Linked DNA regions of Homo sapiens: regions 2, 3, 4 and 5 are each linked to region 1. The links come from fine-mapping of genetic effects on gene expression. Tissue or cell type: blood mononuclear cells. Region 1 holds a variant in brackets; each other region holds the start of a gene. Each region is shown on its reference strand, or each on the opposite one. Region 1 has its middle 14 kb from the start of ARHGEF3. Region 2 holds the start of H2AC6 (H2A clustered histone 6). Region 3 holds the start of MMRN1 (multimerin 1). Region 4 holds the start of ITGB3 (integrin subunit beta 3). Region 5 holds the start of H3C10 (H3 clustered histone 10).

Evidence for each region. PIP is the estimated chance that this variant, and not a neighbour inherited with it, causes the effect.
Region 2: it holds the start of H2AC6, and the variant in region 1 is fine-mapped to the expression of H2AC6 in blood mononuclear cells (TOPMed, PIP above 0.99).
Region 3: MMRN1 starts here. The variant in region 1 is fine-mapped to the expression of MMRN1 in blood mononuclear cells (TOPMed, PIP above 0.99).
Region 4: ITGB3 starts here. The variant in region 1 is fine-mapped to the expression of ITGB3 in blood mononuclear cells (TOPMed, PIP above 0.99).
Region 5: H3C10 starts here. The variant in region 1 is fine-mapped to the expression of H3C10 in blood mononuclear cells (TOPMed, PIP above 0.99).

The regions. Positions count from the first base shown.
Region 1 is chr3:56,812,182-56,818,790 of GRCh38, forward strand. It overlaps a transcript of ARHGEF3 not described here. Among named protein-coding and RNA genes, the nearest start is that of ARHGEF3, 14 kb to the left of the region's middle. The variant T/C (reference allele first, on the strand shown) is at 3,540.
Region 2 is chr6:26,120,602-26,127,210 of GRCh38, forward strand. It overlaps H2AC6 (H2A clustered histone 6), which reads left to right and starts at 3,571. Exons shown (of 1, transcript NM_003512.4): 1 at 3,571-4,089. The coding sequence starts at 3,632. The coding sequence ends at 4,024. It overlaps H2BC4 (H2B clustered histone 4), which reads right to left and starts at 3,325. Exons shown (of 1, transcript NM_003526.3): 1 at 2,866-3,325. The coding sequence starts at 3,303. The coding sequence ends at 2,923. RefSeq lists enhancers at 745-1,431, 1,432-2,116, 2,117-2,802, 2,250-3,449, 2,498-3,237 and 5 more and a silencer at 3,109-3,474.
Region 3 is chr4:89,891,109-89,896,559 of GRCh38, forward strand. MMRN1 (multimerin 1) reads left to right here and starts at 3,746. Exons shown (of 8, transcript NM_007351.3): 1 at 3,746-4,486. The coding sequence starts at 3,864.
Region 4 is chr17:47,251,779-47,255,934 of GRCh38, forward strand. It overlaps ITGB3 (integrin subunit beta 3), which reads left to right and starts at 2,049. Exons shown (of 15, transcript NM_000212.3): 1 at 2,049-2,162. The coding sequence starts at 2,084. RefSeq lists a silencer at 1,844-2,103.
Region 5 is chr6:27,806,583-27,813,191 of GRCh38, forward strand. H3C10 (H3 clustered histone 10) reads left to right here and starts at 3,469. Exons shown (of 1, transcript NM_003536.3): 1 at 3,469-3,954. The coding sequence starts at 3,492. The coding sequence ends at 3,902. It overlaps H2AC13 (H2A clustered histone 13), which reads left to right and starts at 1,591. Exons shown (of 1, transcript NM_003509.3): 1 at 1,591-2,085. The coding sequence starts at 1,628. The coding sequence ends at 2,020. It overlaps H2BC13 (H2B clustered histone 13), which reads right to left and starts at 1,347. Exons shown (of 1, transcript NM_003519.4): 1 at 897-1,347. The coding sequence starts at 1,324. The coding sequence ends at 944. It also overlaps the pseudogene H4C10P. RefSeq lists enhancers at 1,735-1,934, 1,853-2,451, 3,135-3,806, 3,423-3,712, 3,807-4,478 and 4 more.

The DNA.
Region 1 (6,609 bases):
ATACACCATATTTAAAACTTCTGAGATGGGACCAAAAAATAATATGCAGAATACTATAGTGGGCTGTTTGAAATTTTGAAAGGTAATTCAAATAGGCCCCTAATTTTAATGTTTAGCTTCTTGAAGAGTCCAAACCACTTTGAGAAACGGCTCCTACAGTGTTAGACTGTGGGGGCCTCTCAGATATGATAGAGCTTTCAGTTCCTTCCAGCTGTTTACACACTAATTCCTGAACAAGGTGGACTTGCCAGGAAGGCTGAAACTAGTGACAAAGGGACATCAAATAGCTTATTTTCAAAGACACTGTGCAACATGCTCATCTGCCCTTTTCCTTCCCTTTAAAGGTTATTTCTTTCATTCCCTTCTCTAGGTTTTTGATTCCAGGTTAAACTCTACAAAAATGTTTTTTTCCTCTTAACTTGCCATGCTCACACCTAATGCCATTTGTATCAAAACTCTGTTTTCTTGAGGTGGGCCCCAAGGGGCTGACTTTTAAGGGAGGGGGCAGATTTTGCCTGATGTTTCTGCAAGATTAAACATGGTGCTTATCTGAAGTTCAAGGCTGATGATAAATTATAGACTCAAGAACTTTTTATTCAAAGAAGCCAAAGGAAGAAGGAAACTTCTCTGCTAGCTGCTCCACCAAAGGGGAGTCATGTTCTCCCCTCCTAGAGCCTTACAAGAGATAATTTTGAGAGCTCATTCTGGTTTAGAGACAATACATGGTGAACAAAGCTCATCTGTCATTGAGTGGGAGGTAGGGAGGAAAGAAGGTAAGAGAGAATTAAAATTGTAAAGCCAACATCATGTGGATTCCTCCTTGAACTTTAATAACCCAGTGCTGCCTGCAGGCTCAGAAAAACCAAATGCAATGGGTAGGTACAAGGATTGCTCTGGTGCCAGGAAAATGCAATAAGACATAACTTTTATAAGGTAGGCAATGAAAGAGTGCCCTGCAGGAACAAAACAGGCTTTTAACATCTCCAAAGTTGGCAGCCAGATGCCTGAAACATTGGTTTAGTGCATCCAAAACACACAACAGATAGAACCACTTTCTTTAAGATGAAGTCATCTTCCAGGAGAAACAATAGCTGGGAAGGCTGGGTTTTTATGATTCATGGGAGGAGGAGAATTTGATCTGTATTTTCTTTGCCACAGTCTATCCCATTTTAATGCATGTTAGAGGTTTTCCACATGTTAGGCAAATTTTCTAGAATGTTTTGAAAGGGAAAAAATTCTGCAGACTGCCTCAGTTACTGAAAGAGTTCTCTTTCTCCCCTGGCTGGGGAGGGATCCAGTTCTGTCTCACCGTGTTATCGAAAAGATCTGAAACTACAACTCTTCATTTGGATTCTGCTGTTATGAAATGCAGTTTGGGGTATCTTGTTACACTTTACTCCCAGAAGTGTTAAAGGAAGTGCCTGTCATCAAAATTCAAAAATAAATATAAAAATGATGCTGGCAGAGCTCAAAAACTAAAAGGATCAGCATTTTGCTTCAGTTTCCTGTTCATAAAACTTTATAAAAACAACCCACCCATTTAAAAAAAACCTGTAACAATAGTTCACTATTCTTTTCCTAAATGCTTGCCTCATGCCACTCTGAAATTAGGTGCCATCACGTTTCCTGAGTTATGGGCCCCAAACACCACATCCTTTTCCTCCCTCCCACACCCCCACCCCACCTGGCATCATTCCTGAATTTAGATGCTTCTCCAGTTTCTGAGCTCAGTAGACAGATGCCAACATTCTCCCTCCTACCTGTCCTGAAGTGGCCAAGCATCTGTACCAGCTGGAAGCAGGAATAATTGAGGCTTCCTTCCCCCAAATTAATTCTCACTTCCTAGAGAAGCTTTTAATATGGAAGGTTAAATTATAAAGTGAAGAGCTAGTAAACTGAAAAAGAATAAGATATTTCCCTCCCACTCTGCCTTTACAGCAAAATTTTCTTTGTGGAATACTCAACACTCTGTCCTTCTTTCTGGAAGAACATAGAATACAAGCTCTAGAACAAGCTTTTCCAACCCATGGCCCACAGGCTGCATGCATCCCAGGATGGCTTTGAATGTGGCCCAACATAAATTTGTAAACTTTCGTAAAACGTTATGAGACTTTTTTTTGCGATTTTTTTTAAGCTCATCAGCTATTGTTAGTGTTAGTGTATTTTATGTGTGGCCCAAGACAATTCTTCTTCCACTGTGGCCCACGGAAGCCAAAAGATTGGACACCTCTGCTTTAGAATGAGAAGCCTGGGTTCAAATACCAAGTTTTCACTTGCCAACTATATGACTTTGGACAGTTTACTTAATGATGACAAACATCAGTTTAAGCATCTATAAAATGGGGATATGAGAGTTTCAAGGTTTTAATGAGTTAAAAACACATGAATAATCCAATAAGATAATATGTATGTCAGATTTCTAAGCATACAGTTAGCACGTCATGCTATTATTAACCCTTCCGGTAAATAAATCATCCTTCTCCCTTTTTTTTTAAATGAATTAAGGAAAAAAGGTGGAATTTGGAGAACTTTTCCAACACTCCTTGCTTCCAAAGACATTAATTCTTTGATTTAATCTTATAATTTCAAAAAAGGATATGACTGTTGCACATATATAAAAGAAGCAGCAGAGTGAAGAGTGAACTGACCTAAATTAGAAGACATGGGCCAGGTGCAGTGGCTTACACCTATAATCCCAACACTTTGGGAGGCCAAGGTGGGAGGATCACTAGAGCCCAGGAGTCTGAGACTAGCCTGGGCCACAAAGTAAGACCTCATCTCTACAATAATAATAACAATTATTATTATAACAATTAGCCAGGCACAGTGGCATATGCCTATGGTGACAGCTACTCAGGAGGCTGAGGCAGGGTGATTGCTTGAGCCTAAGAGTTTGAGGCTGCAGTGAGCTATGATCGTGCCACTGCATTCCAGCTTGGGCAACAGAGCGAGACCCCACCTCTAAAAAAATTAAAAAAAAAAAAAAAAGAAGACATGGTATACAATCTGGCCCTACCATTAAGTCTGTGGTCTTGGGCAAGTCAAGTGATCTCTCTGAGACATAGATTCTTGAACCATATAACAAGGTGATTTAAACATAAATGTGTATGCTTCTGTGATTCTATTAAACAGCAAAGACTGAAGTGTATATGGAGTATTATCTTGATTTTATGCTATTTAATTTCAGGAAAGCTTTCAAATAAAAATTCATATCTTATGTACTGATGAAAGCACCCTGTCTAAAATTAGCATGTTTGGTATAGGCAGCCCACATTTTGGGTTGGTTCAGCATGGTAATATTTTATGAAGGCTCATCAGAAAATTAAGCTCAATGTACTCATTTGTCAAGAAATGCATATGCATATAGATTCTTTTAATATCAAATGGCAAAGCAAACAAGAGGTTGAAACAGAGGAAAGATCAACTATGAGAAAAGAATTACTGAGGGAAAATGGAGACAGACTACAAATGGGATAGAACTGGCCTAAAATATACCACTGTCACTTAAAAATAGGTACTCGGTTACATAGTGCCTGTGT[T/C]ATCTTTACAACAGCATTTGGTTCCTACACTGTCTTCTTCCTACAGGCCTGTTATGACTATGAGAGCTATCTGTTCCTTCAGTGGACCAAGTCTTGCTGCCTTGTGGATTCTGCCCAGTCACAGCTTCCCTTCTGCCCTTCAAGGGTGGGCTGCTTGCATCTAAGTGGTAGGGCCATACCTAATTCTGTTCTGGATATAACACAGATGACTGACTGGGCTTGGTGGCTGATGTCTATAATCCCAGTACTTTGGGAAGCTGAGGCAAGAGGATCACTTGAGGCCAGAAACTCAAGACCAGGCTGACCAACATAGTGAGATCCTGTCTGTACACAAAATGTAAAAATTTAGGAGGGCATGATGGTGCATTCCTATAGTCCTAACTACTTTAGAAGCTGAGGCAAGAGGATGGCTTGAGCCCAGGAGTTGGAGGTTACAGTGAGCTATGATTGTACCACTACACTCCAGCCTGAGTGACAGAGCAAGACTCTGTCTCTAAAAAACAAAACAAAAATACACATCTAGATGGTTGCTGGCATGAGATGCTAAACCACAGGCTTCTCAAAGCTGAGGGTTCTGTGCAACCCTGGCCAAACTTCTTACCCAAAATACTTACTTACATTAATGTTGTCCATTTATAAGAATTAGAACTAAAAACAAAGATACCTTGCAGCAACTTCTAAATAGTGCCCCATAAATAACAAATAGCACTAGAATTACTTAATAAATCATAATCTTCATTATTCTCTAGCATCTGTTTCCCCTACTAGATTGTACGCTCCAAAAGAATCATGAATCGCTTGTACAAGGCTACATCCCCATTGCCAAAAGATGCCTGGCAAGTGATGAGAGCTCAGTAAATGATGCTGAGAGCCGAAGAGGTGTTTGCTCTCTGCCAGGCACTGTGCTTTGACTTTAATGAAGTATCTCAAGTAATCCTTACAACAATCCTATGAAATGAGTACTTCTATAGTAGGAGAAACTGAGGCACAGAGAGTTCAAGCAACTTGCCCAAAGTCACACAGCTAGTAAGCAGCAGAGCTGGAGTTCAAATGCAAGCACCTTGCTTCTAGAACCTCAAGTTCCAATTCTGAAGCGGAACGTTAATTCACAGGCCAGTCACAAACCAGGGAGTCCTGAGGCCAGAGCCTATGATGCAAGGGTCAAGGATTTGAGCCTATATGATATGACTGAAAGAACACTGAATGAGAAGCAGTGCTGACTTGGGTCCAGTCCTGTGACGTTTTTGCTCACCAGCTTCCCCTGCTGATCAATCAGGGGGTTGGATGCTCACTCAAGTCCTTGTCAGGTGTCAACCCCAAGTGCTAGAGTCACCCTAGACATAATCTCACATCCAGAAAACTACAGAGCACAGTGTGCTCTTCCACCTTCCACGAGGGAGAACCACCAAAATATCAACCATCAAGCAAGTTACTCAGTCTCTCAGAACTTCAGTTTCCTCATCTGCAATCAGGACCAAATAGCACCTACTTCAAAGGGTGGAGGTGAAGATTAGAGAGAAACCTGGTTAAGGGGCTACCACATAGTAATAATTTCATAAACAGTAGCTAGGTTTATTATGGTCCCAAACAGAGCGAGGAGATAAGTCTGGAGGAGGAACGAATCTCTTCAAAACCCAGGAACCAACCAACCAGTTGGAAAGACAGCTCTGAAACTCAGATTTTTAAACAATTTCTAACAGTAGACTACATGTGTGGCACATCATCCAAGCAAAAAGTTCCATATCAGATTCTCTTTCAACAAATGGAGTAATAAAGACAGGTTTGAGTTAACTTCAGCTGGAACAGAAAGAACCATTATGACTTGGGAAGTTCACACCTGAGTGCTGAAAAGCTAGAAAATAATGTTAGGTGCCATTTGCCTTATGCCAGACCTGTGACAAGCATGTGACATATATTACCTTACTGAATCCTCACAACCTGCTGAAGAGGGTACTGCCCTGTTGTATAAATGAGGGCATGGAGGCTCAGAGAAGATAAGTAACTTGCTCAAGATCACACAGCTACTAAATAGCCATGCCAGAACTTACTTAGTCTGCCAGAACGTTGATGGTCTTAACCACAAAGCTACACCCTTCCCCAAAGATAGCGTGTCATTGGCCCCAGCATGCCCCGTACCCACAGGGCAATCATGTCCACACCATGGGCAAGTGGCTTTATAGGAAGGCCACGCATGGGGGATCAAGTGGCCTTGGGTTTTGGTCCCTGTTTACCCACAGACTGTGGCAGCTATGGACAAGTCATTTAACTTTCCTGGACCCTGTTTTGATCAAACAGAATGTACTGGATTAAAGTTTTTCAGTCCAAGTCTTGTGGAACATTAATCACTTACATTTTATACCCGAGAGGTTAGGGATAAAAGAGGAGCCAAAGACATAATGAGCTAACCCTCTGTCCTGGGACTCTGGCTAGGGGAAGAAGTGGAACACATTTGTTACCAAACAGAACTGGGTGACCCTCAGTTCCCTTCTATCTTGAAAATTCTGAAACTCTACTGAAAATTCTGAAATTCTCCTGAAAATTCTGAATTTTATGTGACAGGAGAGGACAAAGAAGAAAAGGACTTCAGGGAGTCATGTGGGAGGTGGCAGGGTGGCCATCTCAAAGCTATGTTTGCACAGCGACTACAGTGTACATGCTTAGCTGGTAAGCTTATTTGAGGTGCTTCTGGAGTGAGGGGGCTGGTGGAGATAATGGGAAAGGAAGCTAAATTCCTCCTCTTGAAATGACTAGTATTGCATACAGCAAGCACTCTATAGATGCTGATAGAACTGAATTCAAAGGAAAAAAGACCTGGATCAAACTGATAGAAGTTGAGCTGCTGCTCAAGATGTATGAATATCTCAAAAATGCTAACAATTGCTTTTGTTCTCAGCCACCCACCCTGCCATAAGCCATTTTCAGTCTCAAGATCAATTCTTTTTCGTGAGAATGAGCATACCTCTTTCAGCAGGATAACCACAGGTAAACCTCCCCCTGCACCCCCTGCTGCCATCCTACGCGCTTGGAATATGAACAAAGGTGAACTGTCTGGCTGATAAAGAATTCTGCT
Region 2 (6,609 bases), not on the chromosome of region 1:
GAAGTCCCTCAGGTGGCACCACTGCTGAGAATATGAATAATTCTGATTCTCAGTTTAGAAGAAAATTCTAGTTTCCTAGTTTCCAGCATCACATCCCTTACAATAAACTCGTTAAGGTTTAGAAAATATTAAATCTTTGTTTTATTCAGATATTGAAAGCACTCTTTTTTTTCCCTGACTCAATAGTCCAATTTGTAACAACATTATGTTTCTTCTGTCCTCTAACCTTACTTAAAGAACGTGAAGGGGCAATAATGTGAAATTACTAAAATTAATAATAAGCTGTAGAGCCTCTGCCATAGCAGTTATTGAGACCAGACATTCGGTTTCCTTGATTTCCTTTTTGTCTCCTGTTAGTCCTAACACTTTCTTAAAGTCAAAAGTTATAACAGGGCAGCCATTTTATATTCATATCATCTTAACACAGGAATACTGGTTTTGCAGATATCGACAACTATTTGGACTCAAAAAAGACAAGTTTTGGAAGGTGGAAAGAGGCATACAAGCACAAAACATCAAATCCCATGTAAAGTCAGAAAGAAAAACACCAACTCTAACCCTGTGTCCTCACAGAGAATATCAACATCTTCAAACAAAAACACCCCAAAAAAAGGTTAATAAATAAACCAGATTTCCTGTCCTCTCCACTGACTAATCACTTAATGATGTGACCAGAAAACCAGAATTCAAATTCTACTACTGCCACCAATATGCAACCAATCAGCCAAGTCCAATTAGAATAACCAAAACAAACAAACGCGGACGATAAACTTTTAGCATGCAAAAGCCAAAGGAAAGTGAACAGAAAACTCAAAGGGTCCAGGGATAGACAACCTGTTTCCAAGACACACATTTCTGTTGGTTCTTATTGTATGACTCACATAAACACTGTCTTGGTGGAAAATTCAGAAATAAATGACCAAGAAGTTAATAATTTGCTTACTGGGTACTTGTACAGAAGAGAGAACAAGCAATAGAATTATTTCATCTAACACAGGCAAAAACATAATCTATGTAAGAGAAAGGGGAAAAGGCGGGGAAAGAATACTGAATTTTGTTTGCAGATTTTGGTTACACTGATTAGTTAGTTGGCAGGTAGGAGAGCGGTCAGTCTGAATGGGAATAAGTGACCAGGTCCATTAGAGGCATAGAAAAAAAAAAAACCATTTAGGCCCGGCGCGGTGGCTCAAGCCTGTAATCCAGGACTTTGGGAGGCCAAGGCGGGCAGATCACCTGATGTCCGGAGTTCGAGACCAGCCTGACCGACATGGAGAAACCTCGTCTCTACTAAAAATACAAAATTAGCCAGGGTGTCGTGGCGCATGCCTGTAATCCCAGCTACTCCGGAGGCTGAGGCAGGAGAATGGCTTGAACCCGGGAGGCGGAGGTTGCTGTGAGCCAAGATCGCGCCATTGCACTCCAGCCTGGGAAACAAGAGAGAAACTTCGTCTCAAAAAAAAAAAAAAAAAAGAAAAAAAAATTTACTTGTGAGGGACTCTGGAAATTTCATTTCTCATCAGAATTTCTCAGATAAGTTATCTAGGCAAGGCAGCCTGTGATTGCACAGCAGTGTTCAAGTATAAGGCCTTGTCTGGCACCAAAGACAGGCCTTAGTTTATTTCCCAGGTGTGAAAGAAATTGCAGATTTAAGATCACACAGTCCTTATGTTAAATAACTGTAACCTAAATTACATGGTATTTAAGTTTGTAAAAATCTGCTTTAACACTAATTTTATTTATTGTATATTCCCGGTTTTTAATGGAGAAAGCAAACTTCTAGGTGCTAAAAACGTGTTCTAGACTTGAATAAAAAGATAGGTAGACTACGTCTAACCCTTCATCTTAAAATCTTTACCTGGAAAAGACCATGAGTAAAATACTTAAGGGAATGTGGAATTTCCCAGGCCACAAAGCGGCCTGCAGTTGTCTAGGAAGGGAGAGTCCTCTAGGAGATACAGTGTATGTGCTAAGTTTAATGACGTCTCCTCTTCATTCTCCCCCACCCAGCGCCTAGTCCTTACTGGCCTTCAGTTCAGTGTTCGAAGGCTTGTCAATTTACCCAGCAGTTAAGAGTTGGCTTCTCCTAAAGCAACTTTCAAACTTGTCTGCATGTTACAAGCCCCCTACGGAGATTTTAAGTTTCAATCAGGCAACACACCATTTATGGCTGACTGAGCACTGGGATTCAAGCAAAATTTGATTTGATTTGAATCTTGAATAAACCAGTTGAATAGAATAAGATGTATGAAGCAACATCTGGCGCAGTGCTTACATCTTTAGTTCTGTACTGCCTTAGTGTTGTTATCAAAACTGACGCATATTAGGTTAAAAGACTATTACCGGGGCAGTTGGAAACCCAGGAGACACACCCTTCAGTATACTACGAAGGTGTGCGCCACGAAAACAGAGGGGGAGTCCTTCCTTAGGCAGTTACTGCCCAGGTTCCCACTCCGGTCCGCTATGTAAATCAGAGTCTCAAAACAGCTTTCCCTCGATTGGTTAATATTTAAAATGACAGGACAGCCTATTGGCTAGAAGCTGGTGGCGAAATTATGACATTACGGCAACCGTTGATCCTGGCGACGTAGACAGGGACAGACAGCTGGGTCTGAAACCTAAGCGAGCCTGCGGTTTCTTCCGGGAACGCCGAGTTAGCAAAATGGCCGCTTGTCTCCATTTTAAATTTAAGCACAACGAATTGACCCCAAAGCCATTTTTAATGGCTGGCTTCTTTCGGGTTCAGGACCCTTTGTCCCTCTCTAAGCTGCAACACTTGTCCCCACCCCTCTCCAGTTCCTATATTCTAATACCCCTCCGCCGCCAAATAAAATTTGGCGTCTGGCCACAGCTCTTTTAGTGGGTATCTGGGTGGCTCTTAAAAGAGCCTTTGGGGTTAGGTGTTAAGACGCTTACTTGGAATGTTTACTTGGAGCTGGTGTACTTGGTGACGGCCTTGGTGCCCTCCGACACGGCGTGCTTGGCCAGCTCTCCGGGAAGCAGCAGGCGCACGGCCGTCTGGATCTCCCTGGAGGTGATGGTCGAGCGCTTGTTGTAATGCGCCAGGCGGGAAGCCTCGCCCGCGATGCGCTCAAATATGTCGTTAACGAAAGAATTCATGATGCCCATGGCCTTGGAAGAGATGCCAGTGTCGGGATGGACCTGTTTCAGCACCTTGTACACGTACACAGAGTAACTCTCCTTGCGGCTGCGCTTGCGCTTCTTGCCATCTTTCTTCTGCGCTTTGGTCACTGCCTTCTTGGAGCCCTTCTTCGGGGCGGGAGCAGACTTGGCTGGCTCAGGCATCTTAAAACACCAGAAATGTGTCGAAAGTAAAGAGCGGATTTCTGCTACTTATAGGGCTTTTATGCTAATGAGGGATGGAGAGTACCTCTTAGTTAATTGGAAGACAAACTGCACAGTTGTCATCCGTGGGCAGAGCTATGCAAATGAGGTATGAAAGTACAGCTTTTCTATTGGCTATCTGACTAGCATTTGCTACCGACCAATCAAAAAGTCGGATTTACTCCCCAGGAACTACCTATAAAAGCGGCCATGTTTTACATATTTCTTGATTTTGTTTGTTTTCTCGTGAGCTTAGGCCGCTGGTTTTGGTGATTTTTGTCTGATTGCAATGTCTGGACGTGGTAAGCAAGGAGGCAAAGCTCGCGCCAAAGCGAAATCCCGCTCTTCTCGCGCTGGTCTCCAGTTCCCGGTGGGCCGAGTGCACCGCCTGCTCCGTAAAGGCAACTACGCAGAGCGGGTTGGGGCAGGCGCGCCGGTGTACCTGGCGGCGGTGTTAGAGTACCTGACCGCCGAGATCCTGGAGCTGGCCGGCAACGCGGCTCGCGACAACAAGAAGACTCGCATCATCCCGCGCCACTTGCAGCTGGCCATCCGCAACGACGAGGAGCTCAACAAACTGCTAGGCCGGGTGACCATTGCTCAGGGCGGCGTCCTTCCTAACATCCAGGCCGTGCTTCTGCCTAAGAAGACCGAGAGTCACCACAAGGCCAAGGGCAAGTGATTTGACAGGTATCTGAGCTCCCGGAAACGCTATCAAACCCAAAGGCTCTTTTCAGAGCCCCCCTACCGTTTCAAAGGAAGAGCTAACCTCACTGCTTGTAGGTAGAAGGAAAAAAGGCACTAAGGTAAGTTAATTTTATGCCAACCTTGAGCAAAGCGTATTACTGCTTTTCGGTTTTTGGGGAGCGCTGTTACTAAAGGTTGGTCTGTTTGTATGTAATAGTAGGTCAGTTACGTACTATCATACTCTAAAGAAATATTCTAGTTAATGCTTTGTAAGATCGACCATAGTTAGTGCCTAACAGTTTACATGCAGGGATGCCTCGTGATCTAAACACTTCGTTGTGATTACTTTAAAAATGTAAATTGAAGGCAAAACTCTAACGTGTTGGTAACCTTGTTTGGTCCTCCGACTAGTCCCCCGTCTATTTTTTTCTCAATTTAGGCTGTAGGCAGCCTCACTTTCCTAATTCTGTGAGAGTTATAGGTCCCATTCCTGCTAAAGTGCAGAGTATATTACCTAAAAGTTAACCAGGGAGTTGAAAGGTGTCTGTAAAACAGACTAATGTCCCTAATGTAGAACGGTGCCTGACATGCAACTTACTCTTGTATTTTAAGAAGCTCAAGCGTCTAGGTTGCCATTACAGGCAGAAAAGGAAATAGAGTGGGGCCTGTGGCCACTCAAAAACCTTTGCTTTCTGCTCACCCCTCTAATCCTACCACTTTGGGAGGCCGAGGGGGCTGATCACCTGAGGTCACGACTTCGACACTAACCTGGCCAACATGGTGAAACACCTCTCTACTAAATAAAAATAATAAATAAAAAAATAAGTTGGGCGTGGTGGCACATACCTTGTAATCCCAGCTACTCTTGAAGCTGACGCAGGAGAGTCGCTTGAGCCTGGGAGGCGGAGGTTGTAGTAAGCCGAGATCGTGCCACTGCCCTCCAGCCTGGGCAACAGTGAGACACGGTCCCCCAAAAAAACCTTTGCTTCTAGGGATCTGGTAACAGCTGCCCCACCCACAAGAAATGGAGATCTGGGACCATGGACAAATTTCTAGAGACCTATTTTCCTGGATTCTGTGAATCTCGCCGAGGTTTTCTTCCGGATCTCGGTTTCTGCATTTTTTTGTTTGTTTGCTTGCTTTTTTGAAACGGAGTTTTGCTCCTGTTGCCCAAGCTGGAATGCAGTGGCGCGATCTCGGCTCACTGCATACAAACTCCGCCTCCCGGGTTCAGACGACTCTCCGGCCTCAGCCTCCCTAGTAGATGGGATTACAAGCGCCCGCCACCAGTAGAAACGGAGTTTCACCAGGTTAGCCGGGCTGGTCTCGAACTCCTGACCTCAGGTGATCCGCCAGCCTCTGCCTACCAAAGTGCTGGGATTACAGGCGTGAGCCACCGCGCCCGGCCGGTTTCTGCTTTGATCGGAATTAAGTGGGCAGAAAAGTCTAGGCGGGCTAAGTCTTGCCTATGCATCTGCGCCCAGCTGCTCAGACTGGCCAAACAGACCCAGTCGTTTAGTCTAACGCTTCTGGAACTCCACTGAAGCGTTTTGCATTGTTTCGTTTGGAGCCTTCAAATCCGAGTGTGTGGCAGGAGATAATAATCCTAGCAGAAGCTGTTTACTGCTGACGCGCCTCCCACTTCCCAGATACTGACACCGGCTCAGGGCGGATCCAGCCTTTTCCGCTCTTCCCTCCCTCCACCCCCTCCTTTCCCTACAACTACTCTCAAAGGAAAAGGGTTGGATGTCCCATTTGGGTGAAAACAAAGTGGCATAAAAGCAAATGATCACCTTTGATAGCCACATATTAGAATTTTCCGAGGGTATTTTTAAATTACAACGATTCTAATGGGCAGCTGGGCTGAGAATCATCAGATTTGAAGGTCTGGTTTCACATGGCTCTTGGGCTGAGAAGACCGGATTTTCCCCCCCCAGCATTTCCTGTATGTCCGAGAATTTCGATCCTAAGGTTAGAATTGCCTTATGGGCCTTGGAATCCTTTTTATTCACTGACCAAATTGCCTTTGATTCCAGCTCCCAATCGGTGTGTGACCTTGGCCTAGGGCTTAATCTCTTCCTACCTCCATCTCTTCCTTGTATGCTTTTGCTCACCTTGAAATGAAAAGAACCTGGCTCAGCAAGTGTAGATTCTGAAATCAGAAAACAGGCTGAATAAGAGAGATGGTTTATTAGGCACTACTGTGTGCCAGGCACATTTCATGAGCTTCCAGTATGTTAATTCATTTAATCCAACAATCTAAGAGATAGGTTTTATCCTTATTCCGAATTTTGAGATGAGCAAACTAAGAAACAGCTTAAAGAACTTAAGTTGTAAGGCCAGGAAAACAGTACTTATAACAGCTGACTATTCTATAACCACACCTCCTTAAGAGATTATTGTCAGAAAAATAGAAAGAGTAAAACATCCATACATAATGGGTAAACTTTGTCCACATACCAGAATGTTACTAATGGCTTTCTAACCTCTGAAGAATTTAAGGGAAGGAGGAAAGGTAATTTTCCCCAGGGAATCTACACGAAGAGGTAAATCTTGACAATGTATTAATACTGTAAACCC
Region 3 (5,451 bases), not on the chromosome of region 1:
AACCTTCTCATATTTATTTTGAGAATAGATAATATAGAAACAATGGGCTTTCTGAATTTTCTTTAGGAGTAACTTACAGGAGGCAATCTGACTGAATGGGTATTTCAGAAGACTTTTGAAGGTGTGTTCCCGGAACAAGTTCATTATATTTATTTAGATTACTTTTTTTTTCTTTTGTGTGGCTATAATAATGTGAAATAGAGCCCTCTTCAACCCATTTGTTATCACTATACATAGGAGTATGGTCATAGCTTCATCTATTCGTTCACTGATTCAACAAATATTTACCGAATACCTATTGAATCAGGATTGGGCATAAATATCTGTTCTAACAATTACTAATGTGTTACCCTAGGAAGTTATTTAACTTCTTTAAGTTTAACTTCCCATGAGTATAACAAGAATAGAATACTTACCTAACATGTTTGTAAGAATTAAATAATATGCCAAATTTAACTTACCTAGCACATCGACTCATCAAAATCATGCAGAAATCAGTTTCTCTTCTTCTCCAGCCCTTTTGCTGTATGTTGATAACCCCCTTTGTCCACATGTAAATTTGACAGGTTTTCAATATTTTTCAAACACCATTAAATTGAAAAAGCTCTAAAATTTGTTTTCTTCTATTATTTTTTGACAGATATGTCTTATGGAGGAAGGTAATAATGAAATCATATTTTGGATGTTTTAAACTATTTTAAGAAAATAGGAATTTCTCATGTGAAAAATGAAGAAAACAGCTGCTGAAAAATCCTATTAATCTGGTGGAAGTTAGCCCATACCCCCAACATTTTACAAAGAATAAGTCTTGCAGCTATAAAAATGCTTTGAATAGTACACAGCACCATCTACAGTGAACTCCTCAATCTAAGATTCTCTTTTAACTCACATTTATATTTTCTTTTAACTTAATAATCTTTTTTTGTTTTTTTTTCTTGTGGTTAGAAAATTAATTCATATGCATTATAAGGTGGAAAAGAACCAAACCCATTATCTCATCACCTACAGACAACCCATGTTGCAGTATATAGTGAATCCTATGTTTATGATACAATGAAAAATGACATAAAAATCTCCTGATAACTCATAATATAATAAATTTCATGATTTTTATCTTATAAAATATTCATGGTGAACAAATGGCAAGATGGTAAAACATAATTTAATATGAACAACCAAGTGGGAAATGGGAGGTATAGCAAAATGACAGGGTCCAGTTATACAAAACTGATGATATAGTTTAATCCAACAATAGTATTTTAGTATCTAGTATCTAGTATAATAGTATCTAGAAGAATGAGTAAACTGAGTACTCTTCAGCCAGTCATCTCAGCAATATTATTTTTCTTAATTGTTATTTAATGAGTATTAATTAGTCTCAGAAAGAAGAATTTGAGACAAGGTCTCTGACAATTTCTGGAGTATTTTATACCTCTAATTAAGGGCTGATCCATATACCCAAAATCACTAAATGAGCTTGAGATTCTCTGGGGAGTTAAAGTGCAAGATGGCTTAGTAGATCAATAGTGAGATACAGAACCTTTAGCCTTTTGATTTCAGGGTCCCTTGTAAGCTAGGATAGGGGTGAGCAAAAGTCATTATTGGTCAATACCTTATAAGTGGTTAAATGAATTGCTTAGCTTTGTTCAGTTTTTATTATCATTGGATAACTATTTGTTATCAGTTATAGATCCAATGGGTGACATTTTACCACTAAAGTTCACTTGCCAGACCAGGTTTGAACAGTCTTTCAAACTGTAGAAGAAAACAAAAAATCAGTGAATGTCATTATTTTGGCAGTTTTGTAAATCTTCAAGACAGTCCATTCATCTATTTTTACTAAAGCTAGGAAAATTGGTGTAAAATTGAATATAAATAGGAACATTTTTCCTAAATTTTATGAAATTACTGCTCTTCCATAAGCCAAAGCTAGTTTCTTCTGTGTTTTCCAGATAAAGACACTGTAAAGCCTTTTTCTTTCTACTGAAAACCATGTTTGTATTGTGACAGTTGTGCAGTTTCATTGCTCTTTTGCTCTTTTTAGTAACTAATCGTTTCCTGGATTGTCTCTGCTGGACCTTTTTGCTCCTTTACTAAGGCAAGGTTTGTGGATTGTTCTGTGGTATATCTGAGAAACGGATGCTTTTTACTCCATATCAGAGTCGATTGGGGTTGCTGATGATTGTCTTAGTTTAAATAAATACTCTCTAGTAGGTCAACAATACACTTACGGAAATAAATGGCAAAGATTGAGGGAAGAAAAAAATATTAATCCCAAGTAGTTAGTAGCTCAAGGAAGAATTAGGCCTTATTTCAAATCCTGGTGCACTGTGTCCAGGAATAAGGACTAGAGAAAATATCTACAATAAAACATAACCAAGCAGGCATTAGATTTCCAATTCTCTAATTTTGAAAGACGGAACTTAATAATCTAATAACAAAAAATAAAATCTAATAATAGTTTAACAATCAATGACTGAATATTTAGCAAGAGCATAATGCCTGGCACAGAAGTTGACAGAAAAATGGGTTACACATGGATTTAGCTTCCAAATAACATAACAGACATTTAGCAAATTGACAGCAAAGAATATTTTTGTTTTCCTTATAATCCTAGCACATAAGAGAGTGCTTTGCACAGAATGAGGGGTTATGTAACTACTGAATTCATGAATACATAAATAAATGAATGAGTGAATGAATGAATGAACTATTATAACTTAGTTTGTATATCTATTTAAACAGACTGATATGAAATTTTATAGATAAGAGGTTAATTGAAATCTGAGGATCAGAGATTTGCTGGAGAAATTAAATGATAAATCTCATGAAACATCTCTACCAGAAAAAAACCCATAGAAAACTCAGATAAATCTGGTTCTCTGCTACCTACAACTGGCATAATTTTGTCCTACAGTAAATGTATAAAAGCATTCTATATGATCCCATTTTAATTTATTTTTATGTGACTCCATTTTTTCTTCATCTATCCCTTACTAGTAAAATATTGGTTACCCCCAACCATCAGACAATCGTGATTGGAAAATAAAGGAAGTAAAATTCTGATTATTTATTCCATTAGTGGGTATCTCTGGTAGAAGTTCCAGGAGCAAAATTTAAAGTGACTTCCTGGTATACCTGTCTAATTCAATTACTTATGCTTTCCTTTTCTGTTATTACTTATAATCATTGAGATTAAGTAATGATACAGCTGAAGTGTATTTATAAAAATAGAAAGATATACATGTATGTAGATAGATGTTTTATAATTCAGAGTATATGTACTATATGAAAGGATAGAGACACTGTAAACAAGCTTTTGATTATGTGTATGCATGTGGATATACACTTGAACAAAATGCAGCTTTCTGGATAGAGCACAGCAGATAAGTATCATAAAAACTTTTCTCAGTGTCTTTATGTAGTAGAACAAAATGTTAAAACTGTATTCAGCCTATATCAACAAAATTTTGCACTCTCTATCGTGAACCTGAAATTTCTCTTTGAAATCAGTGAAACGTGAAACCAGGGTGTGCTCAGGAAAAGAAAGTTACTTCATATTTTTTCATGGGTTTTCCTGATAATAATTGCCTGTGCTTTCCCATTTACCCTTAGCTTTGTCAGAGACCCTTCAGCACTTCCATAGAGCCATCCCACTAGAGGTCACAGATCACAAAAACCCTACAGAAACAGGAAACCGAACTTCCTGAGTACGCTACAAAACACAGAAACCTGTTTCCTCTACACATCTCAAACTGGCAAAACTCAGTCTTAGCAGATTCAGTGTGGAAGCAGCTATCAAAAAGGCCATAAGGATTTTGTCCCCAAATTTCACATGAGCTACCTTGCTTCAAACTACTGAGATGAAGGGGGCAAGATTATTTGTCCTTCTTTCTAGTTTATGGAGTGGGGGCATTGGGCTTAACAACAGTAAGCATTCTTGGACTATACCTGAGGATGGGAACTCTCAGAAGACTATGCCTTCTGCTTCAGTTCCTCCAAATAAAATACAAAGTTTGCAAATACTGCCAACCACTCGGGTCATGTCGGCGGAGATAGCTACAACTCCAGAGGCAAGAACTTCTGAAGACAGTCTTCTTAAATCAACACTGCCTCCCTCAGAAACAAGTGCACCTGCTGAGGGTGTGAGAAATCAAACTCTCACATCCACAGAGAAAGCAGAAGGAGTGGTCAAGTTACAGAATCTTACCCTCCCAACCAACGCTAGCATCAAGTTCAATCCTGGAGCAGAATCAGTGGTCCTTTCCAATTCTACACTGAAATTTCTTCAGAGCTTTGCCAGAAAGTCAAATGAACAAGCAACTTCTCTAAACACAGTTGGAGGCACTGGAGGCATTGGAGGCGTTGGAGGCACTGGAGGCGTGGGAAATCGAGCCCCACGGGAAACATACCTCAGCCGGGGTGACAGCAGTTCCAGCCAAAGAACTGACTACCAAAAATCAAATTTCGAAACAACTAGAGGAAAGTAAGAAATCTTCTTTTCTTTTTGTTCTTTCTCTGTCTATCAGGTCTAGAAGATTGCAAGTGAAATTTACCTCACTCCCAGAAAATTATTTCAAATTCAAGATGAAATTGGATCATATTTATAATTTCACCATTTCAGTTAGATAAAGTTATTGTTAATTTATCTAATAGGGAAAAATGAAGAAATAAAATGCAGCAATTTTGTTTTAACTGAAATAATCATTCACTTTTCTACTCACTTATAGAGGTAGTTTTACTTAGAATAGTCATTGCCAAGCAAACTAGCACCACGGTGGCTGTTAGTTTAATTCAAGGATATGTTGATTGTGTTCCCAACCATATTCACAATATGAAAGACAAAAATAAACAAATAAATAAAATTGGGGCTTGAACAGATGTGAAAATTGGAATAGCAGTATTATAAAAAGTAACAGTTGTCAAAGATCGAAACAAGCACACCAGGGGTGCAATCCTGGCTTCAGTATGGTCTAGTTCCATGATTTTGAGCAACTCAGTTGATGTCTGTGAACCTCAGTTTCTTCATATGGAAACTACAGATTTAATACAAGGAATGTCAATAAAAATAAAACTTTGCAGGGTTCTCGTTCAGATAAAAATGAATGAAAAGTGCTTAGATGCATGCTCCTCACAGAATAGGTGCTCAACAACTCAAATTTTGCTAGTACCATGATTATTTTGAGTTGTGTTGCCATCATGAATATGATGAATCAGAAAACTTATTTTTCAAATTAATTTTAATTTAAAGTTAGAGCAATTTGAGTGGTTGAAATAAAATAAAACAAATTTAAAGGAGTGTTGTTAAAGAGGGTTTTCAAAAGAAGTGATAGTCAAATCAAAATAAACAAAGAAAAAATATCTGGGTGGGTCAATATTTTATTCATTTAATGCTCAGAGTCATCTGTATGTTTGGAATACTAGAAGTTTAGTATTGCAAAACTAAACTTA
Region 4 (4,156 bases), not on the chromosome of region 1:
ATGGTCTGAACTAGTTTTTCAGATTAACTTTGGAATGCCCTTGGCTGAGAGGAAGGGTTAGTTCAGACAGTTGTGGGGGGGCTTATAATGTTATTTTTAGTTTACAGGTTCTTACAATTTACATAGAATTGTTCAATATTAATTCAACATAGGCTACTGTATGATAAGTTAAGGAGGAATATTGTAATACCTAGAGCAAACACACACACACACACACACACACACACACACACATGCAAACGAGGTGTAGCTAGGAAGCCAGTAGAGAAAAAAAAATTATCCCAAAAGAAAGCAGAAAAAGAGAAACAGAGAAACCAGCCAAAAAGATAGAACGAATAACAAGATAGTAAATGTAAACACAACCATCAATTACTATACTAAATGTGAATGGACTAGCTCCTTTGCCTTCCCTGGGGCTGGGAGTGCAGGATGGACTCACTTGCACAATTATGTCATGTTTGCTAGGGCTTGGGCTAGGGTTGTGGACTTAGCATACTTGCTGAGGCCAGTGCCCACCCCAAGTGGTTGCTGACAGCAGGGATAGGCTAAGGAGACACCTAAGTGGCTGGAGATTGGTTTTATATATATGGGAATGGAGCAGATAACTAAATACTTAGGCAGAGATGTAACCAGGCCATGTGACCTGAACTTTGCTCCAGGGCATTGACACTGCTGTTAAAATGCTTCTGGCCTAGAGGCCCTCTGCAGCCAGGGGAGGTAGATGGAGCTTCAGCCTGAAAACCCAGGTCAGAGGGCCCAAGTACCCTTTGCAGAGCTGGCTTTTCCCCTTGCAAATTGCTAGTGACGCTTCAGCTGATGTGTGTTACTATTAAGGTCCTAGTGTTTGGGAGGGTGGGGCAGGAGGTGGAGGATTGTCAGAAAAAAATTACATGGAAAAAGATGGCATCTGAGATGTTTTGAAAGATAAGTGGAATTTTCCAAGTGGAAAAAGGAAGGAAAATCAGTCAGATAGGAAGGCATGGAGCATTGGGGAATGACAAGTATCTTCTTGGACTAGGGTGGGAGATGGGCTGGAGAGATGGGTCAGGGCCAGTTGTCTGGCATCTTGTGTGTCTCAGAAGAGGGTGGGCACGCTGCGTAGGGAAGCCCAGGGCCACTCTGAAAGCCCTAAAGGGGAACTGATGCCTCTGGCCTTGTTTTTATCACCATCAGGACTACCCATTGAGGCAGGCTGCACTACCAGCTACTTCCTGGTGCCCTCTTGCTCATAGCCATAGTATTTTGCCTCTCTGAGCTTCCAGAGGTTTTAAGTCTGGGGAAGACCCAGGGACTCAAAGAAAGATTGGGGTGGGAGATAAGGGGCCACAGTTTGGGGGAGTCAGGCAGGAGGCCTTTGAGGAAAATAGATAAAGTCCCAAAGCCTGTGAGTGTGAATTTGGAGGCAATATGCTGTGTTCTGAAACGTTTTCAGACACTGGCTAGGTGCAAGCAAGTGTTTGTAGGGCGAGGCTCTTCATGGACCTATCACTGCTTACGCAAGCTTGGGATGTGGTCTTGCCCTCAACAGGTAGGTAGTCTACCGGAAAACCAAACTAAGGCAAGAAAAAAATTAGTGAATAATAAAGGACTGAACCGGTTCAGAGAAGGCATTCAGCAGATGTTTGCCAGTCAAATGAATTAAAGTGTGAATGAATGAAACTCGAGGTAGTGGGTGAATGTGTCCCAAGAATCCAGCGAAACAGGGTCTCCCAGGAGGCGGGACTGGAAGGGTCCGGAGAGGGGCCACAGGCTCCTGGCCTTTCTAAGCACACCAAGTGCCCAGTCGCGGACCCCCGGGACCAGGATGCGCTGACGACCCGGCTGGCAGGCGGGTCCTCGTGGGCGAGGCGAGGGAGGCGGCGAGAGAGGAGCAATAGTTTCCCACCGCTCCCTCTCAGGCGCAGGGTCTAGAGAAGCGCGAGGGGATCTAGAGAAGCCGGAGGGGAGGAAGCGCGAGTCCGCGGCCCGCCCCGTTGCGTCCCACCCACCGCGTCCCCTCCCCTCCCCTCCCGCTGCGGGAAAAGCGGCCGCGGGCGGCGGCGCCCACTGTGGGGCGGGCGGAGCGCCGCGGGAGGCGGACGAGATGCGAGCGCGGCCGCGGCCCCGGCCGCTCTGGGCGACTGTGCTGGCGCTGGGGGCGCTGGCGGGCGTTGGCGTAGGAGGTGAGTGAGGCTCCGGCTCGGCAGCGTCGCAGCTGCCCCAGGATCTGCGCCCCGGTCAAGTTGCGGACTTGGAGCCGGCAAACGCGGAGGGCTGGTCCCGCGCGTCTGCGCTGGGAATGCGCGTGTCCTGGCTGGCGCGGTCGGAGCCGGGAGCTGGGGACCTTCCTGGCCCGGCGGTGGCGGGGCTGAGAGGTGCCTGGTGCCTGGGAGCGGGTCCTCCGAGACGCCGAAGCCATCAGCCAGGCTGAGCGCCTTCCCGGCCGCCGCGGCGCGCACGGTGCGGTGGGCGCATCTCTGAGCCCCGCGCTCACCCGGGGCTGCGCGCGTCGCGGGTGGTCCTGGTCGGGCCAAGGACGACTGGCCCAGGAGCCAAGGCGAGGTGGGGCTTCCGGGGGTTGTTCCCGCGCCTTGGCAGAGGGATGCCGCTGTAGCTTCCTGGGTGAGAGCGTGCGCGCGCGCGGGTTTGCCAGTTTCCCCACATTTCCAATTTCTCCTGTTACGCTTTCTCCAGAAGGTTTTTTCTTTTCCTTTTTTCTTTCTTTCTTTCTTTTTTTTACCTTCAACTTGGCTTCCTGCGGGGTTGTTTTGGAGCAGGATGAGGGCTTTGCCTCCTCCAGTGTCCCCAGGTGGCAGCGGTGCCTCTGCTCCCAGGGCAGACCCTGCACCCGAAAAATCTCTAGTGTATTCGGGGAGCCATGAAAAGGCTCCCTTGGGCCGGTGGGATCCTTGGCTTTGTCTCTGGCTGCTGCGCACACCGTCAGCCGTCAGGGCAATTGGCATTCGGCCTCTTTGGTACTGGGGACACAGGTGGAGGGATGGAGCGGGCACAGCCCGGGGTTGCTGCCCGTGGTCCTCTCTGAGTCCTTGGTGATTTTGCCTGGGCTGGAGAGAAACCCTGGCTCCTGGTCTGCTGGGGCCGCCTCTGCCTCAGAGGATGACACAAGAGTGCATGTAAGTATTTTTAATAAAAACTGTAGTACTCGTAAAACAATCTACACCCTGCAGAAGGGATTTGTTATTTTATTTTATTATTTATTTATTTATTTATTTATTTTTGAGACGGAGTCTTGCTCTGTCGCCCAGGCTGGAGTGCAGTGGTGGGTTCTCGGCTCACTGCAACTTCTGCCTCCTGGGTTTAAGCGATTCTTCTGGCTCAGCCTCCCGAGTAGCTGGGATTACAGGCGCCTGCCACCACGGCCGGCTAATTTTTGTATTTTTAGTAGAGACGCGGTTTCACCATGTTGGCCAGGCTGGTCTGGAGCTCCTGGCCTCAAGTGATCCGCCCACCTCAGCCTCCCAAAGTGCTGGGAATACAGGCGTGAGCCACCGCACCTGGCCAGGATTTATTTTAAAAAGGGAAGATTTGTTGATAAATTCACTTCAAAGATAAACTATTCGAAAATACTTTAGTGATTCCCGTCAAGACTCTTCTGTGTATGTATAGACGTATAACTCATTCTGGACAGGGCAAGGATATCTTTTTTTGTTTGTTTGTTTGTTTTGAGATGGACTCTCGCTGTCGCCAGGCTAGAGTGCAGTGGCGCGATTTCAGCTCACTGCAACCTCCGCTTCCCGGGTTCAAGGGATTCTCCTGCCTCAGCCTCCCGAGTAGCTGGGATTACAGGCACGCACCACCACGCCCTACTAATTTTTGTATTTTTAGTAGAGACGGGATTTCCCCATGTTGGCCAGGATGATCTCGATCTCTTGACCCCGTGATCAGCCTGCCTTGGCCTCCCAAAGTGCTGGGATTACAGGCGTGAGCCACCGCACCCGGCCAAGGGTATCTTGAAGGAGGGATTACAGTTGATATGTAGAGGAATATTGCAGTGGTTATTGCTGCATTTCCTATGTGACTGGGACTAAAACAGATCAGCTGATAGTGTTAGCGTGCAGTGAGCAGTCTGATGACTATGACACAGAAATAAGAATCTCCAGCATTCTGCCCTGGGACATGTGGAGCCTTGGGTCAGATGCTGCTGGCTATTGATGCC
Region 5 (6,609 bases), not on the chromosome of region 1:
GGCATCTTTTGCTAGCAGGCATTGACAATTAGGAGAAGGCAAGGTGTTAACTTTTACTGATCTCCCACTTTTTTTTTTGAGACAAGGCCTGGCTTTATCACCCAGGCTGGAGTGCAGTGGTGCGATCTCAGCTCACTGTAAACTCCGCCTACCAGGCTCAAGCCATCCTCCTACATCAGCCCCCTAAGTAGCTGGGACAACAGGGGCGCGCCACCACTCCTGGCTAATTTTTGTGCTTTTTGCAGAGACGGGGTTTTGCTATGTTGCCCAGGCTGGTTGCGAACTCCTGGGCTCAAGGGATCCGCCCGCCTCCACCTCCCAAAGTGCTGGGATTACAGGCATGAGCCACCGCGCCCACCCCTCTAGTTTCCAGTTTAGTCGGAAAGATTAAAAACGCCAGCCTTGTTTTCCTAGTGCTGTTTTTGGTTTTTACCTCGGGTCTTTTGTCGTGCCTTAAAATCATGTCTGGTTGCGCAAGTGAGGGAAAGGATTGGGTAAAGGGGGCGCCACCGCAAGTTGCTGTGCAACATCCAGACATCACCAGACCCACCACCTGGAGCCTGGCCTGGCGGTGTCAAACGCATTCTGGTCTCATCTTTTTAGAAACCCGTGGATGCTCAAGGAATTTCCGGATAACGTGATCCCGGATGCGCTTGACTGACTTACACGGAACGAGCAAAGCGCAAAGCAGTCCCTGCTAAGGACTTAGTTTATGCCCTCAAGCGCAAAGGTCGGACCCTCTATGGTGTTGGTAGCTATATGCACGTACCTCATGTACATTTCACCTTAAATGGCTTTCAAAGAGCTAGATTAATTTAGTGGATAGATCAAAATGATTTATGACCCCTCGCCCCCCAGTGATAGGAAGAGCGAACCAGCTCTTCTTTAGATAATAGTGAGTGGCTCTGAAAAGAGCCTTTGGGTTGGACAAGAGCTTGAGAATTTACTTGGAGCTGGTGTACTTGGTGACGGCCTTGGTGCCCTCCGACACCGCGTGCTTGGCCAGCTCCCCCGGAAGCAGCAGGCGCACGGCGGTCTGGATCTCCCTGGAGGTGATGGTCGAGCGCTTGTTGTAGTGCGCCAGGCGGGAAGCCTCGCTTGCGATGCGCTCGAAGATGTCGTTGACGAAGGAGTTCATGATTCCCATGGCCTTAGAAGAGATGCCGGTGTCGGGGTGGACCTGCTTCAGCACCTTGTACACGTACACGGAGTAGCTCTCCTTGCGGCTGCGCTTGCGCTTCTTGCCATCCTTCTTCTGGGCCTTGGTCACCGCCTTCTTGGAGCCCTTCTTCGGGGCGGGAGCAGACTTGGCCAGCTCGGGCATAATGAAACAATAGTGGCAAAACCAAAACAAGAAGTCGGTCTCCTCTTTTTATATAATAGTTTATGCGGCCGAGGTAGTGGGAAGGTCTCTGCTGATTGGTAATTATCCGTGGATGACGACAGATGCCAGTTTTGCCCAATCAAAATAGGTATCCTGCATAATCGAGTCCTATTGGTCTAAATAAAAATAAAACGTAAGCCAATCGCACAGCTTCCTTTTCGCGCCCAGTAGAGGCTATAAAATGTACGTTTTTCTAGTTTCACTTCAGTCTTTCTTGACCGTATAGATAATAGGCCTTTTGCCATGTCTGGGCGTGGCAAGCAGGGAGGCAAAGCTCGCGCCAAGGCCAAGACCCGCTCTTCTCGGGCCGGGCTTCAGTTTCCCGTAGGCCGAGTGCATCGCCTGCTCCGCAAAGGCAACTATGCGGAGCGGGTCGGTGCTGGAGCGCCGGTGTACCTGGCGGCGGTGCTGGAGTACCTGACCGCCGAGATCCTGGAGCTGGCTGGCAACGCGGCCCGCGACAACAAGAAGACTCGCATCATCCCGCGTCACCTCCAGCTGGCCATCCGCAACGATGAGGAGCTCAACAAGCTTCTGGGCAAAGTCACCATCGCACAGGGTGGCGTCCTGCCCAACATCCAGGCCGTGCTACTGCCCAAGAAGACCGAGAGCCACCACAAGGCGAAGGGCAAGTAGAAGCCTGGATTAGTTTGCAGCAACTCAATCCCAAAGGAACCAAAGGCTCTTTTCAGAGCCACCTACAATTTTGTGGAAGAACTGAGCACTATGTTTAATGTAATTTCTCGTCTTTGCCTACTTCTAAACCACTCCAAAGGTTACGTAGATCAGTCTTCGGTGTCTTGGTTAGGTAGTGACAATCTCGTTAGCTTTATAAAAAGCCTGGATAACATTAAAAGTATTAAACACGCCTTCATCTTAAGCTTAGTGGAAGAAAATTTAGTTTTTCCTAAGCTGGCATTATCCAAGTATGTTGAATTCTGTATGGTTCACCGTCGGGTTTTACTTTTAGTCTGTTGAAGCAAACATGTCTGCTTTGGGGCCAGATGTTTTCTGGGTCTTGGTAAATAACAAACCGGGCATTCGACGTTCAATCCAAATCTAGATCAACGACTTGGATTCTTCATTTCTGAGAAATATCTCTCGAATCTGTATAATTAATTGCATTTGAACATTAATGATTGAGTTGAGAATAATTATTAGACTAATTAGAACAGTTACTTATGGTGCCAGGTAGTTCTCTTTGAAGCATTTTCTGAAAATTCATTGAAATTAAAATTTCCCGAGCTTTCCCACCCCCAGCCACACAAATTGATTTCTTAGTACAGAGATGACTTAATTTGTTTCAGCATGGTAAATTCCACTTTTAAAATATCTGACTTGATGTTTTTAATCTGAATCAGATCTGGATGTACGAATGGAATAGATTCTTAAAAGAAAATGAATTACATTTCTAGAGTATTGGAAAAATAAGCTGCAATGGAATTACTTTAATCTAAAAGTGAAAAGTTCACATAAAGTTGTTTCTTTGACATTTTTTGGCCTTGAATTTCTCACATGCGAACCAGCTTTTCTTGGTTATAAAAATAGAAGTTTTTTAAATTTAAGTGGTCAAAAGATAGAAAATTGAGGGGACAGGTGTATAAGGCTGTCCTGTCCAGTATTGCAGCCACTAGCCAATTGTGGATAGTGATCATTGGAAATTCCATAGCATGAATTTTATATAAAATACACATTGCATTTGGAAAAGTCAGTGCCAAAAAGTGTAAAATACCTAACAATTTTAATTTCGATAACATTGAAATATGTTGGCTATATTGGATTAAGCAAAATATTAAAAATTAATTTTTCCTTGTTTTGTTACAATGTTCTCCTAGATAAGTGTAAATTACTTATATTGCTCTCATTTCCACTGGAAATCGCTAGTATAGTGAACAACTGTATAGCGAAAATAGAAAATAAAATATGGAGACCATGAACTGCTAAGTCTGTCAGAGGAATAGGTGAACAACAAAAATTTGAGTCCTTCGCCAATCCGGTTACTGTTGGGTAGGCCTTCAGCATACTTTTGTCCAATCAGCTTCAGACTCTCACTATAAATAAGCGGCTAGCTTTCTCTTTCTCCTGAAGTGAATCTAGCTCTGAAGGCATGGCGCGTACGAAGCAGACTGCTCGCAAGTCCACCGGCGGCAAGGCTCCGCGCAAGCAGCTGGCCACCAAGGCGGCTCGGAAGAGCGCTCCGGCCACCGGCGGTGTCAAGAAGCCCCATCGCTATCGGCCTGGTACAGTGGCTCTCCGCGAGATTCGCCGCTACCAGAAGTCCACCGAGCTGCTGATCAGAAAGCTGCCTTTTCAGCGTCTGGTGCGTGAGATCGCGCAGGACTTCAAGACCGACTTGCGCTTCCAGAGCTCCGCGGTGATGGCGCTGCAAGAGGCATGCGAGGCCTACCTGGTGGGGCTCTTTGAGGACACCAACCTGTGCGCCATCCACGCCAAGCGGGTGACTATCATGCCCAAGGACATCCAGCTCGCACGTCGTATCCGCGGCGAGAGGGCTTGAGTCTCAAGGACTCACTGATTACATACCCAAAGGCTCTTTTCAGAGCCACCCACATGCGCGCTGAAAAGATCTGTTTCTCTCAGGAATTCTTCCTGGTACTTGTTTTGCCTGTAGTAGATAGGGCCCATTTCCAGACGTTATACAATCTGTTTCGTAAGACTCAGCCTATCCCTTTTTGAATGCTAATTTTGGGAGTCTTAACATCTAATAATGTCCGGCATTTTTCCGTAAGCATTGAGTGTAGCCAAAAGTTCCTTCGTGTATTGCTCTCCCATCTCCGCAGCCCGGTTTTGACCGGATGGTGCTTCTAATTTTCTGCTAACCTGTACTGTGGTGTGTGTATATTTCTTGCCAACACGCCAGAAATAAAACTAAGGTTGTACTGAAGTTGGAAAAATTCAGGTTAATGTAGCTCATGCTGGCTAAAGTGAAACGTTCTCTCCCCGCCCCCCGTTCCTAAGCAGTGTTAAGTTTTCTTTGAATTTTTTCAAGCCGGATTTTGGGCCTGCTTAAACCACTTAAATGTAGTTAATGACAGATGGTTTGAGGTTTAAAAGTCTTCTGGAGAAAGCCCGCCAGAGAACATTCCCTTTGAAGCCCCATGTAAAAATACGTGTGGGAGAGAAAGTGTTTTCTCTGACTTCTGCTGACAGTGGCTAAAACTCTGAACTGTCAGGAGTATTCAAAATAAGACTGCCTTGTAGGTAAGCCTGTGGTAGTTTTTTTGAGCACAGGATAAAATACTTGAGTCTTTGCTTAAATGTTACTTTCTCAATGAGGCTTTGTATGACTAAATAAAATCTGTATAATCCCCACCTATTTTTTTCACCCTAGAATTTGTCACTATATGCTGTACCAGAGTTTGCTGATGTATTGCTTGTGTGTTCTAAAATACAGGCTCATGAGAGGAGGAACTTTTGTTTACTCGCATATCTCCAGTAACGTAGGAGCTTTTGATCAGTATTTGTTGGATAAATGAATGAATGCATGGGTATATAATAGTAAGGAGACATACCCACATGGAAAATCTCAAATGAAAGAAATACATCAGCTTGGTAGATATGCTCAAATCAGCTTCTTGTGGGCCAGGAAAGCCCTTACCTCATCCATTCTTGTATTCAGAATGCTAGATTTCTATAACTTCTTCTGTGAGCTCTCTAGCATTCTTATAAGTATTCAAGATTTTCCCTGGCAAATTGGCTTGTGTATGTGTGTTATCATCTCTGTCTCTCCTTAGCTTAACCTGTGAAGGATGTAAGTGGAAAGATCATAGTATTTTTACACTGAGTTTTAAAAAGCAGTTTTAATTCTCTATCTTGTTTCAGTTGGCTATTTATGTATCTTCAGTTATTAGAATTGGTTACATTCTTAATACACTTTTTTGGAAATTTGATATCAAGATCACTACTGCAACATTCACAATCTGCTCATCCTCATTTTCTTGTGTGTGGGTTCATGATTTCATTATTTCCACATATATGGAATTTAGAAAGATAAATAATTTATGATTAATATTTTACAAATTAAAATAATGCTTTAATACTTTTAATTGGAATCAACACCGTAAGCAAAACAAAATAGAGTTTTTCCCCTCTCAGAAATTAGCTTTCTTCTGGAAAGGAAGATACACTATTTTGGAGGGAAGCAGTGCCTCTAGGACACTTAGGGGCCCAACTGCTAAACCGATGGATATTGTTGAGTGTGTAAATAGTGCATTCCTTCTTTCTGTGCTGGGAAACTAAGAGCTAGTAATAAATCAGGAAGGGCTCACACAGAGACTGCCTGGTATGTACTAATCAATACTCTTGCTGGCTGGGTAGGGCATCCTCTCCTGGAGATATGCAGCCAAGATACTCCCAGTTAAATTTCCAGTTATAATTACATGAGGAATTATTTATTTAAGGGACAGTGAGTAGTTCTAGTTATGTGGAAATGAATACTCTATGTCTTTTCAAAACACTCCATGTACTGAATTACAATAGTCTGGTAACCATCCAACTCAGCTCATTTGTCAGGAGTTCATGACCAGCCTGACCAACATGGTAAAACCCCGTCTTTACTAAAAATACAAAAAATTTAGCCAGGTGTGGTGGCATGTGCCTGTAGTCCCAGCTACTCTGGTGGCTGAGGCAGGAGAATCGCTTGAACTCGGGAGGTGGAGGTTGCTGTGAGCCGAGATCACGCCACTGCAGTTCAGCCTGGGCAACAGAGGGAGATTCCATCTCAAAAACACAAAACAAACAAAAAATAAATAAATTTAAAAAAAAGGACATAATTCTTGTGTCTGAATTTCCTGAGATGGCAAAACTCATAAGTGGCATAACAATCCTTTTCAAGGCCCAAAATAAAAGGACCTTGATATGCCCATACAGAAATATGGACAACAGGCCGGGCGCGGTGGCTCATGCCTGTAATCCAAGCACTTTGGGAGGCCGAGGCAGGTGGATCGCTTGAGTCCAGGAGTTGGAAACCAGCCTGGGCAATGTGGCGAAACCCCATCTCTCCAAAAAATAAAATTAGCCAAACGTGGTGGCGTGTGCCTGTGGTCCCAGATACTCAGGAGGCTGCGTTGGGAGAATCGCTTGTGTCCAGAAGTTGGAGGTTGCAATGAGCCGAGATCGTACCACTGTCCTCCAGCCTGGGTGACAAAGCGAGACCCTGTCTCAAAAAAAAAAAAAAAAAAAAAAAAAGATAACATGAGGAACTG